2 linked regions of the Homo sapiens genome follow. The protein of the gene in region 2 purifies or fractionates together with the protein of the main gene of each other region. This does not show direct contact. Each region holds a gene or a part of one and is shown on either strand. Other genes may lie near its edges.

The links.
Region 1: the proteins of KLHL26 (region 2) and VSIG10 fractionate together in Homo sapiens (co-fractionation; one large-scale study listed by BioGRID). This does not show direct contact.

What each region holds. Positions count from the first base shown.
Region 1 is NC_000012.12:118,076,340-118,080,150, forward strand, and holds part of VSIG10 (V-set and immunoglobulin domain-containing protein 10 precursor), read right to left. Parts: intron 3,268-3,811; coding exon 3,007-3,267; intron 1,642-3,006; exon of another isoform or gene 1-1,641.
Region 2 is NC_000019.10:18,643,528-18,647,338, forward strand, and holds part of KLHL26 (kelch-like protein 26), read left to right. Parts: intron 1-1,110; exon of another isoform or gene 1,111-1,139; intron 1,140-3,811. UniProt on the Homo sapiens protein: May play a role in endo(sarco)plasmic reticulum (ER/SR) mitochondrial signaling. May be part of the ubiquitin-proteasome system (UPS) and affect ubiquitination and degradation of target substrates in cardiomyocytes.

The sequences.
Region 1 (3,811 bases), on a different chromosome or scaffold from region 2:
TGGATATCATGAAAATTATGCACGGTCCCTTTTTTTTTTTTTTGGCTCATCACCTATCGTTAGTGTTAGTGTTTGTGTGAAATACATTCCCATGATCAAATTACCTCCCACCAGGTCCCTCTGCCAATATTTGGAGTTACAATTCAACATGAGATTTGGGTGGGGACACAGAGCCAAACCATATCATGGTGTTTCGCTGTGTTGCCCAGGCTGGTCTCAAACTCCTGGGCCCAAGCAATATGCCCGTCCTTGGCCTCCCAAAGTGCTGGGATTACAGTCATGAGCTACCACATCTGACTGATCCTGGCGCTTCTGATCTCTCTTACCTTTCCCTTTTTTTTGTTTTGAGACAGAGTTTCACTCTGACACCCAGGCCTGGAGTGACCGCTCACTGCAGCCTCAACCTCCTAGGTACAAGCAATACTCTCACATCAGCCTCCCCAGTAGCTGGGATTATAGGTGCATACCACCATGCCCAGCTACTTTATTTATTTTTTATTGTTTGTAGAAACAAGGTCTGTGTTGCCCAGGCTGGTCTCGAATTCCTAGCCGTAAGCTATCCTCCTGCCTCTGACTCCCAAAGTGCTGGGATTACAGGCGTGAGCCACCACGCCCGGCCTTCTCCCTTCTTACAAAGAAAGACATCAGTCATTGGATTACAGCCTACTCTAATCCACTATGACCTTATCTTAACTTGATTCCATCTGCAAAGACTCTTTCTGAATAAAGTCATATCCACAGGTATTAGGGTTTGGACTTGAACATATCTACTGGGGGGACACAACTGAACCCCCAACCTCCACCCAGCTTTATCAGTACTTTACACACGATGCCCCGGCCACACTGGTCTTCTCTCGGGTCCTCAAATGCCAAGTTTGTTTCCACCTCAGGGCCTCTGCGTTTGCTGTTGCCTCTGCCAGGAACACTCAGCCCACGGATCTTCACCTAGCCAGCTCCTTCTCATTCTAAGGATAGATTATTACCATCTCACGGAGACCTCCCTGCCACCCTAGGAAAAGTGCCCCTCTTCTTATAAAGGCCTCCCTTTTATATATACCATTTTATTATCCTCATATTATCATCATATCTGGACCTATCTTACTTGTTTTTGTACTTTCTGTCTTCCTTCTACCCCCATGCCACCCAGAATATAAGCTCTGTGAAAGAGGAATGTTTGTGGTTTTAATATGTACAGACATTCTCTGACACTCCTCCCTTCAAAAAGTGGTGCCTAATTCTTCCCAGCCCTCTTCAATGTGGGCTGGACTTATTTCTAAGACACAGAGTGTGGCAGAAGGGATCCCATGTAACTCCTGAGGCTAGGTCATAGAAAGGATAGCATCAGCTTGACTCACTCCATTTTGGATCATTTGCTCTGAGGGAAGCCATCTGCCATGTTGGAAGGACACTCAAGCAGCCTTATGGAGAATCCCACATGGAGAAGAAATAGTTGCCAGGCATGGGAGTGAGGACTTCAAAAGTAGATCTTTCAGATGATTTCAGCCCCGCAACCTTCAATTCTTCCGGCTGACACCCCAGACATACAGAGCCAAGACAAACCATCCCCAATGCCCACTGTGCCCTCTCTGAATTCCTGACCCACAGAAATCATCAGATAATAAATGGTTATTCTTGTTTTAAGCCACTATGTTTGAGAGTAATTTGTTACATAACTAGAAGCTATAGTTTGAATGTTTGTCCCCTCCAAATCTCATGTTTAAATTTGATCCTCAGTGTTGGAGGTAAGGCCTAATGGAAGGTGTTTGGGTAAGTGAATTCTCATTCTATTAGCTTACTGCAAAAGTAATTACAATTTTTGTCACTATTTTCTTTTTTTGAGATGGAGTCTCACTCCATCGCCCAGGCTGGAGTGCAGTGGTGCGATCTCGGCTCACTGGAAGCTCCGCCTCCTGGGTTCACGCAGTTCTCCTGCCTCAGCCTCCCGAGTAGCTGGGACTACAGGCATGCGCCACCACGCCCAACTAATTTTTGTATTTTTAGTAGAGATGGGGTTTCATCATGTTGGCCAGGCTGGTCTCAGACTCCTGACCTCAAGTGATCCACCTGCCTCAGCCTCCCAAAGTGCTGAGATTACAGGTGTGAGCTACCACGCCCAGCCACTGCTGGTTGTTAAAAAGAGTTTGGCACCTCCCTTCTCTCTCTTGCTTCCTCTCTCACTATGGAACTCTGCATAAGCTGGCTCCCCTTTACCTTCTGTCATGAGCAGAAGCAGCCTGACGCTCTCACCAGAAGCCAAGCAGATGCTGGTGCCATGTTTCTTGCACAGCCTACGGAACTATGAGCAAATAAAGTAATTTTCAGCTAGGTGCGGTGGCTCACACCTATAATCCCAGCACTTTAGGAGGCCGAGGCAGGTAGATCACTTGGGGTCAGTTCGAGACCAGCCTGGCCAACATGGTGAAACCCCATTTCTACTAAAAATACAAAAATTAGCTGGGCATGATGGTGCACGCCTGTAGTCCCAGCTACTCAAGAGGCTAAGGCAGGAGAATTGCTTGAACCTGGGAGGCAGAGGCTGTAGTGAGCCAAGATCATGCCACTGCACTCCAGTCTGGGCAACAGAGCAAGACTCTGCCTAAAAAAAAAAAAAAAAAAAAAAAAAAAAAAATTTTCTTTATAAACTACCCAGCCTCAGGTATTCCTTTACAGCAACAGTAAATGGACAGACACAAAAGACGATGAACCTCATATGTCTTGTTCACTGCTCCATCCTCAGCACGTAGAAACTGTACCTGGCACATAGCAGGGGTTCAATTAGTATCTGTCAAGTGGAAAATAGCTGGGACTAGAATGAAGAAGCTTGAGCTAAGCATCTCTAAAATTTGAAAAAAGTGAAACATAAAGAAAAAGAAAGGGAGAAAGGGAAGGAATTCAGTCCACCCTGACATCCGGGGATTTCTTCCTCAGAAGAACTCTCAAATGCTTCTCCTAGGAGAAAGGAAGGCAGGGAAACTCCAACCCCAAGACAAAGCAAAACAGACTCACTGATCTGCACCATGCAGCTGGCGCCCGACTCTGGCCCAACTATGTGGCTTGTAACACACTTGAACTTCTTGCCATCCGACAGCTGGGACTCGCTCAGCATTTCCACCCCCAGCTTTGACTTCCCCACGATTACACCTCCTGGCTCTTCTATCCACAGGAAGTCAGGGTCAGGGTATCCCCCATCCCAGCGACAGGTAAGCTGCAACATGAACGATCCTGATGCCATCTGTGCCCAGCACTGGGGAGCTGATGGAGGGGGATCTGCAAAACACCAGAGGAAAGCATGGGCTGAATCACAGACTCTAGGATCAGCCACTGGACTGGCTCTAAGGATGGCAGAACCAGGGTCTCAGAGGGACATCAACCCCAGTTAGTGTTAGCATCTAATAGCTCCTAGCACAAATTCATGCCTGACAACAGTCAGGCTTCCTCTGTTGGGTGTTAAATTTCCGACCTGGGTCTCATTCACCTTTGCATTTCTTTCTTTCTTTCTTTCTTTGTTTTTGAGATGGAGTTTCACTCTTGTTGCCCAGGCTGGAGGGCAGTGGTGCAATCTCGGCTCACTGTAACCTCGACCTCCCAGGTTCAAGCAATTCTCCTGCTTCAGCCTCCCAAGTAGCTGGGATTACAGGCATGCGCCACCACGCCCTGCTTATTTTTATATTTTTAGTAGAGACAAGGTTTTGCCATGTTGGTCAGGCTGCTCTTGAACGCCTGACTTCAGGTGATCCACCTGCCTCAGCCTTCCAAAGTGTTGGGATTATAGGCGTGAGCCACTGCGTCTCGCCTCGCTTTTGCATTTCTT
Region 2 (3,811 bases):
TAGTGCAATGGCATGATCTCGGTTCACCAAAACATCCGCCTCCTGGGTTCAAGCGATTCTCCTGCCTCAGCCTCCCGAGTAGCTGAGATTACAGACATGTGCCACCATGCCTGGCTAATTTTGTATTTTTAGTAGAGATGCGGTTTCTCCATCTTGGTCAGGCTGGTCTCGAACTCCTGACCTCAGGTTATCCGCCCACCTTGGCCTCCTAAAGTGCTGCGATTACAGGCATGAGCCACTGTGTCCGGCCAAGATGGGGTCTGATTATGTTGCCCAGGCTGGTCTTGAACTCCTGGGCTCAAGTGATCTTCCTGCCATAGCCTCCCGAAGTGCTGGGATTACAAGCATGAACCACTATGCCCAACCTGTATTTTTGTTTTTTGTTTTTGAGGTACTATATATGTAACACAAAATTCACCCACTTTAAGTGAACAATTCAGTGGCATTTAGTACATTCACAGAATTGTGCAACCATCACTGCTGTCCAGTTCCAAAACATCTTTGTCCCCGCAAAAGGTGACCCCATCTTCATTAGCACTAACCCCCTATTCTCCATTGCCCAGCCCCTGACAATCACCAATCTGCAGTCTGTCTCTATCCGTTTTCAAGTTTTATAGGTAGAATCATGCACTATGTGGCCTTTTGAGTCTGGCTTCTTTCACTCAGCATGATGCTTTGGGGGTCATGCATGTTGTAGCCTAAATCAGCACTTCATTCCTTTTTATGGCTGAGTAATATTCCACTGTGTGGATGCACCACATCATCCATTCATCTGTTGATGGACACTTAGATTGGTTCCACCTTTTGGCTATTATGAATCATGCTGCTATGAACATGAGTGTACACATTTTTGTCTAAACACTCATGTTCAGTCCTTTGGGGTACACATCTAGGAGCAGAATTGCTGGGGCGCATGCTTGTTGTATATTCTTGATCATGCTGGTCACCACCTAACGTTATTTGTTGTGTTTCTCTGGTGCCTTGAGGTTGGAAAGCCTGTCTCTCTTGTGCCCTCTTGTGTGCCTGGAACATGAATGACACAGAAGGAGGAAGTGTCCCAGAGACGTGGCTGAGAGGGAGGAAGGGAGGGATGGGGGTGTGCAAAAGCTTATTGCTCTCTGAGGCTTGCAGTCTGGCAGGTAGGAATTCCCTTCTATGGGATCAGGTCGATCTTTTGCCTTTCCAGTGAGGCTTGTGGGGCTGCTGGGGGGCAGTGGGGGCTGGCCTTAGTCTCTAGCTGCCTTTCTAGCCTGCCAGGCAACGCCCGCATCTGCCTTTTTGTCCCACGAAGGTTTTGTCTTTTGGCCAGGGGCGGGGGCAGTTCCTGTCTTCCCCCTGGCCCTTCCAGCGGTACCACAACTCAAGAAACTGTCCCCAGGAGGGACTGCGCTCCCCCACCCCCGACCGCCCCCAACGTTATATAACTTGTTTGTTCCAACTTCTGTCTTCTGCAACCGAGGGGGAAAAAAGAAAGAGAAAAGCTTATTCTCCTTCCTTCCTATCTCGAGGGATCAACAAAAAACCCGTTGCCTAGTAGAGGTGGTCATTAATGACTGAGCCGAACCTCAGGGATGGACAGAGTGGGGCTGCCCTGGCTGGGGTGTGCGGAGAGGAGGTGGGGTCCTTGCTGCAAGCACAAAGGACACTTGTTCACCAGCTGGCCTCCTCCCAGCTCGGGCCGCGGGGTCTAGACTCCTTGGAGGGAAAGGAGGCTTGGGCCACTTGGGGTGTCGCAAGGGGAGGCAAACCCTCTGGGGAGTCGCACCTCCCCAGCTAAAATTCTGTCACTGTGAGGTACCTGACCGGCAGAGTTTTGGAGGAACCTTCTGGCCTTGCAGCCTCTCCGACATGGGCCTTTGGCATCCACGCTTTTTGGCCCACGCTCCCTGGAGACGCCTGGGTAGGGCCCAGGCTCACTGAGTCATGCTGTTCCTGGGGGTGAGGTGGGGGGATCTGGGTGAGGGATGTGCCAGCTTCAGGCATTTGCATAAGAAGTGGTGGCTAGGCTGGGTGCTTTGGCTCACTCCTGTAATCCCAGCACTTTGGGAGCCCAAGGCAGGCAGATTACAAGGTCCAGAGTTTGAGACCAGCCTGGCCAACATAGTGAAACCCCCTCTCTACTAAAAATACAAAAATTAGTCAGGTGTGGTGGTGGGCGTCTTTAATCCCAGCAACTCTGGAGGTTGAGGCAGGAGAATCGCTTGAACCTGGGAGGAGGAGGTTGCAATGAGCCGAGATCCTGCCACTGCACTCCAGCCTGAGCGACAGAGTGAGACTCTGTATCAAAAAAAAAAAAAAAAGAAGTGATGGCTGGGACGTTGTGCCCAGGGGCTTTGCTGCCTGCTGAAAGTGTTTGCATGGAAAGTTGTGGCCGAGACGCTGCGCCCGGTGGGTTTGTCACAGTCAGTCTGGCTGGGTGGCCTTTGCCTGTTGAAGCTTTCTCCACAATCTAGATCATCTCCACCAAGCCCAGAGGCCTTGGAAGGGTCCAGCCCCCCAGCTCCTGCTAGGAAGACTTAGGGGAAGAGGTGGCTTCCCAAGGAGGTTCTTGCTACTTTGGGGAAGTTCTCATTCCTTTGGCCTCTTGCCCCTTTCTTTTTTATTATTATTAATTTTTTTTGACGTCACTCTGAGCTCAGGCTGGAGTGCAGTGGCATGATTTTGGCTCACTGCAACCTCCGCCTTCTGGGTTCAAGTGATTCTCCTGCCTCAGCCTCCCAAGTAGCTGGGACTACAGGCGCCCACTACCATGCCTGGCTAGTTTTTGTATTTTTAGGAGAGATGGGGTTTCATCATGTTGGCCAGGCTGGTCTCGAACTCCTGACCTCAGGTGATCCACCTGCCTTGGCCTCCCAAAGTGCTGGGATTACAGGCATGAGCCAGTGCGCCCGGCCTCATGCCCCTTTCAGAAGGAGGATTTTGACCCTTCCAAGACGTGGACTCAAGTCCTTCTCCTGGAAAATGTGGTCAGATATGGCGGCATGAGGTGTCTCATCATACCCATGGGTGACTGTGGCTCCCTCTTTATGGGTTGTGGCTGTGACAGATTCCTCATCTGGGAAATGGGGCTCCAGGCCCACCAGGTGGGGGGTGTCTGGGAGGAAACGAGTGGGGAGAGGTCACATGTACCTCATCAGTGTTACTGTGGCAGTGCTGACGCCCATGATGGGGACACTGCCATCCTTCTGCCCGCCATGCCCGCATGGGCCTTGAGGGGATCGTCAATGCCAGCAAGCCTTGATGTGGCGTGCGTGTGTCAGGCAGGGAAAGGAGAGGGTGAACTTGAGCCATTGGGAAGACAGTAGTGCCATGACTTGGGCCGTAAGAGGGACAGCAGCAGGGGCAGCGAGAGAGTAGAGCACGTCCAGCGTGAGCTGGAGAGGGCAGGTTCCGCCAGGAGTAGGCCTGGGAGCAGGAGCTCGGCAGGGCGGGGGCAGGGGCGGCGGGGGGTGGCGCGTCTCAGCAGGGATGGGGGCAGGTGGAACTGGGCCAGCCCAAGAAGGGCACTGGCCCACAGGCCGAGCCACATCCAGGCCACTCGATCTGCCCCTCACAGCTGAGCCCCTTCTCTGGGAAGGAGGCCACCCTCTCCTCCCCTCCTTGTCGGCAGGTCCCAAGAGCTCTGGGAGTGGAATTGCTCTGAAAGCACTCACTTCAACCTGAATCGTGCAGTGCGATCGTCACAGCTGGACTGTTTCCACCTGGTAGCTGTGACCCCCGGGACGGCCTCCTTGTCGTTGTCCGTAGTTACCGGGGAAGAAAGGCTTTATTACCCTCCGCCATAATCGCACCATCTCCAGGGAGCCCCTGC